Regions from separate parts of the Homo sapiens genome. Here region 1 is reported to be linked to region 2. The links are microRNA targets in miRTarBase. Many come from high-throughput screens and were not tested one by one. Region 2 holds a microRNA gene; the other region holds the end of a gene's coding sequence.
What was found. The annotated mature microRNA hsa-miR-3919 reads GCAGAGAACAAAGGACUCAGU and lies in region 2 at 1,419-1,439, opposite strand. An mRNA with a match to its seed (bases 2 to 7 or 8) in the 3' UTR can be bound and repressed. Matches are read on the target gene's strand: a 7mer-m8 pairs with bases 2 to 8, a 7mer-A1 pairs with bases 2 to 7 and ends in A, and an 8mer does both.

Region 1 (3,185 bases), not on the chromosome of region 2:
CAGCTAGAACCATGGGACCCCAGTTAGCCTGCACACGGCCGCCACGGCCCCTCTATGGCCACAGGTTTCTTCATCTCAAGCCTCCACCTATCCAAGGCTAAGGAGGCCAGATGTCGCACTCACCCGCACGCTGCCAAAAAAAAGCAGCTTATTTTAAACCTAGTGTGCTCCCCCAATTCTCCTGTTAACCAGTTTCTCCTGTGTGCTTCACTTTCAGATGGGTATGCTTTTTCTCAAGAAGAACACGGAGCTGTTAGTCAGGAAGAAGTCATCCGTGCTTATGACACCACCAAAAAGAAATCCAGGAAGAAATAAGACATGAATTTTCCTGACTGATCTTAGGAAAGAGATTCAGTTTGTTGCACCCAGTGTTAACACATCTTTGTCAGAGAAGACTGGCGTCAGCAGCCAAAACACCAGGAAACACATTTCTGTGGCCTTAGCCAAGCAGTTTGTTAGTTACATATTCCCTCGCAAACCTGGAGTGCAGACCACAGGGGAAGCTATCTTTGCCCTCCCAACTCGTCTGCAGTGCTTAGCCTAACTTTTGTTTATGTCGTTATGAAGCATTCAACTGTGCTCTGTGAGGTGTGAAATTAAAAACATTATGTTTCACCAATATTTAAACATCAGTACTAGTTGTCCTGGGAGAAAGGGAAAGGAGTTTTATGTTGCGTGAGAGGCCCATCCTGTGTAATTGGAGCAGGGCACACTTGCTTCCTGTTGAGTTAACTCAGAGGTTAAGTCCAACGGGCCACATGCAGACTTCACTGTAGGCAGGTTGCTCTCCTGCTTTGATTCCTGTTTTGTGTGTAAAATTGGCATAAACTTCTTGATTGCAGTGAAATCACAAAATTCTCTATCGGGGTGGTCAACCTGAGAACATTTATTTGAACCTCTTAGCCACATTTCCAGCAGGGCAAACCAACTGATGCCCTGGAAGAGTCTTCCGCACCCTCTCCAGGTGCACTCGGCCCAGTCCTGCCGCCGTGTCCAGGCGCCCCTCACCCCCACACCTGCTGCATGGCTGGCCACACCACTCAGTGCATGGCGGCCGATGGGCAGCCAACCCAAACCCGCGCCTTTCCTTGTTCCACTGCAGACTCAGATACAGATGCGAAAAATTCCTTCTTCCACCGCCCTTCTCGTTCTGTAAAGAAAGAAAAGAAACATAGCCTTTCTGCATATATTCTAAACGTCTCTCTGCCTCTGTCTGACATGGGGCCACCCCACAGGTCAGAGTGGTGGTAGAACCCCTTCAGGACTCCCAGCCGTGGTCAGGCTCTGAATACTCCCTTCCCAACATCCAGACTGCTGGGCCTTTGGCATCCACTTACATTAGAACCCACGTTTGTTTCAGAGCACATTTTGGACTTTCACTGTTGGGAAATGAATGAATTTATAACATGCCTGCACAGCGAAGGAACACACCTGTCGCTCTTAGCTCTAGAGTCAGAGGATGAGTAAACCCAGATGCAAGAGTATAGGACATTGAGTGGGGAGAACAAGACGACCACAGAAGTCCTCAGAAGGAGAAGGAAGGACACGGAGACACTGAGAGGAGGACACAGAGGAATCGCCACCAGATCTTTGCAGTAGAAACTCTGAAATAGGCCTTGAGACCCAGACAATTGTCATGATCAGCCCAGTGTGTATGAGAGCTTAAACAAGACCTTCACACACAGTTCTAATTGAAAAGAATTCCAAACATTTCAGGGAAACACCTTTTTAAAAAATATACTGACATGGTTTCCTTTCTGTATCCCATCAGTGTTAGACACAGGTACCTATCAGAATACGGCATATCCTGAATTATCTAAGACAAGGAAGTGAAGAGCGGAATCACTGACTTTCCCAACTGCAGAGTCCCACACTTAAATCTCAACAGAACCTAGATGTCTTCAGGCATGAATGTGAGCACCTGGAGCCCTTACTAAACAACCTGCCTGGAGCCCTGTTCTCTGCTCTGGTTGCCAAACCAGATTTTTGGATGGCCTAAATACTTGTGGGCAACTGTTACTGGTGAAAAATGGGAGTGGAGAGCATGTTTTGGATTTTCACTGTGGGGAAATGAATGAATTTATCACATGACTGTGCAGCGAAGGAGCACACCTGTCACTCTTAGCTCTAGAGTCGGAGGATGAGTCAACCCTGTAGGAATGATTGTGCTAAATTAGGAAATAACACTTTAGTGCACTTTGCTTCCTAACCCTTTTTTGTCAGAAATCTACAACCTACTGGGCATGGAAATGATTTAAAATATGATCTGCATTGACTAAGAAAACTCATCCTCACTTATGAGGTGACCAGGATGCAGAGAGGGCCTGAGGGGCAGCAGAACAATGCAATTCACAGGTGAGGCTCCAAAAAGGGCCATTTCTTTCTCCCCAAGGTGCATAGAACATTTTTAAATATCAGAGTACCCAGCAAGACGGAAGGACTGTCATGCAGGAACTCTAACACAAAATGTGCCTATGACTAACACGACAAACCAAGGTGTATGGTTTCTTTGCACACCCAGAAAGGTGATGGCCAAGATACAGAGGAGAAACGAAAACTGGAATTGAATGTGCATTAGGCATCTTAACTATTCATATTTTGTCTCATTTGGGAACTAAGCCTATTTGGAAAGAGTGGATTAGAAATTGAATTCTTTGTCAAACAGTTAGCTCTGTCTTGAACTTGAAGCCTTCCAAATCAGAATTATGTATTTAAGTGTGTGTTTGTGTTTGTTTGGGGTTTTTGTTTCTTACATTAGAGTTCATATTTTCTGGGATTTAAGGATACAGGTGTATTTTCCTATTCTCTTGAGAAGTAGACTAAACAATATTTGCAGTGATGACAGACGCACACAGAAGAAAACATTAGAAGAGATGCCTTTCTATCCTCTCATGTGGTTGAGCATTCTTACAGCCAAATGACTAAATTGGCTGTAAATTGGTTTCTAGGAGGAGCAGCTGTCACTACGTGTGATGTATAATATTTAGCCAGGGCCAACTCAGGGGCTGTGTCATTTGTCCTATCTTTAAATTGAGGTCAGAGTGTCACACACAACCCCTCCCCTGGGGCAGGGTGGACTGGACTAGGTTGCATACGCTGGCTGTCAGCTCAGCAAAAATGCCACATGGGGCTTGTCACTCCGCCAGACACTCACTGACTCACGGGCTGGCAGGTCACGCTCGGTT
Region 2 (3,167 bases):
AACTTTCAAGGAACATGTAATTACCATGCTATATGAAATTAGAGACCAAAGGAAAATCTAGGAAGCTTTTCATTTTACGAAGCTTGCACAGCCCTGATTCAAACTTGAAAGAAATACAAACTACAGGTGAATTTCGTTTTTAAGCAGAGATGTAAAAACTTAAACAACATACCATAAAATAGAAATAAAAAGCAACATATAAAGAACTACCCGTTAAAACCAAACAGCAATACCACAATGCAAGAACAGACCATAACTCATCGCATCAACTATGGATAATAAGACAACCTATTTTGCTTAGGTTGAATTTTCTAATCAATACAATAAGACTTTTGGAAAGGAAGAGGCAATTTAGTATTATTTGCAGTTGAGAAAATTACATGGTTAACAACCTCGAAAGAATCCACTAAAAAAATTCTGAAGTACTATTAAGAGATTTTAATAAATTGAAAAGATACAAATCAATACAACAAAAAGCCATCGCTTCCTATATTATAGTAATAACCAATTAGAGGTGGAACAAAAGGAAGGAAATAGCCAGGCGCGGTGGCTCACGCCAAGATCGCGCGCCATTGCACTCCAGCCTGAGCAACAAGAGCGAAACTCCGTCTCAAAAAAAAAAAAAGGAAATAATCCATAATCCATGTACATAGGAACAATCATAGTAAGTAAAGTAAAAAATATGCCGGGCATGATGGTTCACGCCTGTAATCCCAGCAGTTTGGGAGGCCAAGGCGGGCGGCGGATCACCTGAGGTCAGGAGTTCGAGACCAGCCTGGCCAACATGGTGAAACCTCGTCTCTACTGAGAATACAAAAATTAGCCGGGCATGGTGGCATGGGCCTGTAATCCCAGCTACTCGGGAAGCTGAGGCAGGAGAATCACTTGAACCCAGGAGGCGGAGGTTGCAGTGAGCTGAGATCATACCACTGCATTCCAGCCTGAGCGACAGAGTGAGACTCCGTCTCAAAAAAAATAAAAAATATAAAACATATGAAATTTCAAATCTTTCCTGATATCTATATCTATTCGTGTTCTTATGCATATTTAGGTCCTTATCAATATTTATTTATCTACACAGCGTTCCTAGATGGTAAGAACAAATTTGCAAAGGTATCAGTTCTTATATTAGTTTACAGATTTGATGCAATTGCTATTAAAGTCTCTAAATAATTTCTTAACTATACAATTGTAGAGTTTATCTGGAATGAGTCTGACCATCCAAGAACATGAAAATATATGAAGTGGAGAATTCCCTGCTAGATATTAAAATTCATCATATAAATGTAATATTTAAGACAGTAAAATATAGGTACTAGAATAGACATGTGAAACCATGTCTATTCATGAAGGTAGTTCAGAAACAGATTCTAATGGATTTATTTTTAACATATGGTAAAGATTCCTGAGCACCATTTACTGAGTCCTTTGTTCTCTGCTACGAACTACTACAAACTAGTAGAGAACAAAGGACTCAGTAAATGGTGCTCAGGTAAAGGGTTAACTACTTGGAATAAAATAAGACTATTATTTCTCATTATGCCATACACCAAAATTTCAATGAACTTAAGACAAATGATAAAGTTGAAACCAGTTTTCAAAAAACACAAAAATATATAGGTGAATGGGATACTAAGTAGGTTTTATTTCCAAAAAAAAATTTAAAATTCTAAAGATTGAAATATGCAATCTAGGAAAATATATCTCACATATACGAATGCAAAAGCTTAATAATATATACGTAATATTTAACACATAAAATCTCAGTGAAACAATAGACAATTCACAGAATAAGTCAACATGGCCACAAAATGTGAAAATGTTAAGCCTCAACAACTAAAAAAGAAATTCAGGTTTTAAACACAGGCCACTTTCAATCTATTAAATTAACAGAACTAGCACAACAGTTCTAGGGATGTAACAATATATATCAATATCCTTAAAAATGTTATATAAATTTTTATTATACTTACAGTAATCTCTTGTAAGGAAACAAAAATATGAAAATATATGAACACTCAATGTTGACATTGATAACTATAGTGGCATAGTTCAATAAATTATATGTCTATGTGATTTCATATTACTCATTCACACTGTACCATAAAACTTTAAGAAATTTTAATGACACAGAAATTAAAATATTAAGTTTTTAAAAGCACAGTGAAAAATGTTGAAAATATGTTTAAGAGCTATATTTATATATATTCATACTAATACCTAGTGTATACACATTTCGGAATCTCCAAGGAAATTCACTGAAATGTTAACAATAGGGGTCTTTGTTGGATTAATGGTGAGATATATTTTTTAACATTTCATATTTTCTAAAATGAATATACACATTACAACGATAAATGAATAGGCATTGCTATAAAATGAGACAGAGAATATTACAATGTAGTTTAGAAACAATGCCATTCAAAATGTGTTGACTGAAAAAAAAGTAACCGTCCATTATTGATAGATTTCATTTATACAGAAGCCTCATTTCCTGTCAGTTTTTGATAAATTAGTGATCACTGTACTTTGCTCTAAAATGTAAATAGCTCCCTTCTTCCACTGACACAGCACAGATTTGTAGGTCTTCATGAAAATACAAAATGTACATACATTAAGAAGTGTAAGCACATTCATTCAAAACTATACTTTTTAGCTCTTGACACTGAAAATTTATCATCTTTTAATATATAAAGCATATTATTTTTTAAATATATGTGCATATGTGTTTTAGGCGCATATGTGGAATCCTATGTATTTGAAAATAATTCTTGTCCAAATAAAGTAAACCACTTAGAATATTTCGGTGTAATTATGATCACATAGCTTAAACATTAATTACAGGGAATGAATAAATGTTTCCCCAGATTCTAGCAGGTCTTCCTGCCTTTCTCTTCCTTCCAAAATCCCAAAATGAAGTTCCAAGAGGATGTATTTCTTTTTCCTAGCTTCTAATTAGCCCAGTCTTTGGTTTAGTTGGCAAGGGCGACTTTTGCATAAGCAATAGCTCTCTTTCAAAAAAGACTGATGTGGGAGATTGTGAAAGACCTATAAAGGTCCTGTGATCTTCAGTAGGGTCCATCCAAGCACCCAAACAGAAGCCTCCACAGCCACGATTGCCCCACATGTCACATAGGGAATGTATTTAACACATGCAATCGTGGATT

Region 1: the mRNA of ATP8A2 is a reported target of hsa-miR-3919. Seed matches in the 3' UTR shown: 7mer-m8 at 1,958-1,964.

Annotation. Positions count from the first base shown.
Region 1 is chr13:26,019,671-26,022,855 of GRCh38, forward strand. ATP8A2 (ATPase phospholipid transporting 8A2) reads left to right here. Exons shown (of 37, transcript NM_016529.6): 37 at 218-3,185. The coding sequence ends at 315. Among named protein-coding and RNA genes, the nearest start is that of SHISA2, 31 kb to the right of the region's middle.
Region 2 is chr3:159,280,972-159,284,138 of GRCh38, reverse strand. It overlaps MIR3919 (microRNA 3919), which reads right to left and starts at 1,493; the gene lies at 1,405-1,493. All of the region lies in intron 4 of IQCJ-SCHIP1 (IQCJ-SCHIP1 readthrough), which reads right to left. The region is part of intron 1 of SCHIP1 (schwannomin interacting protein 1); the gene reads right to left.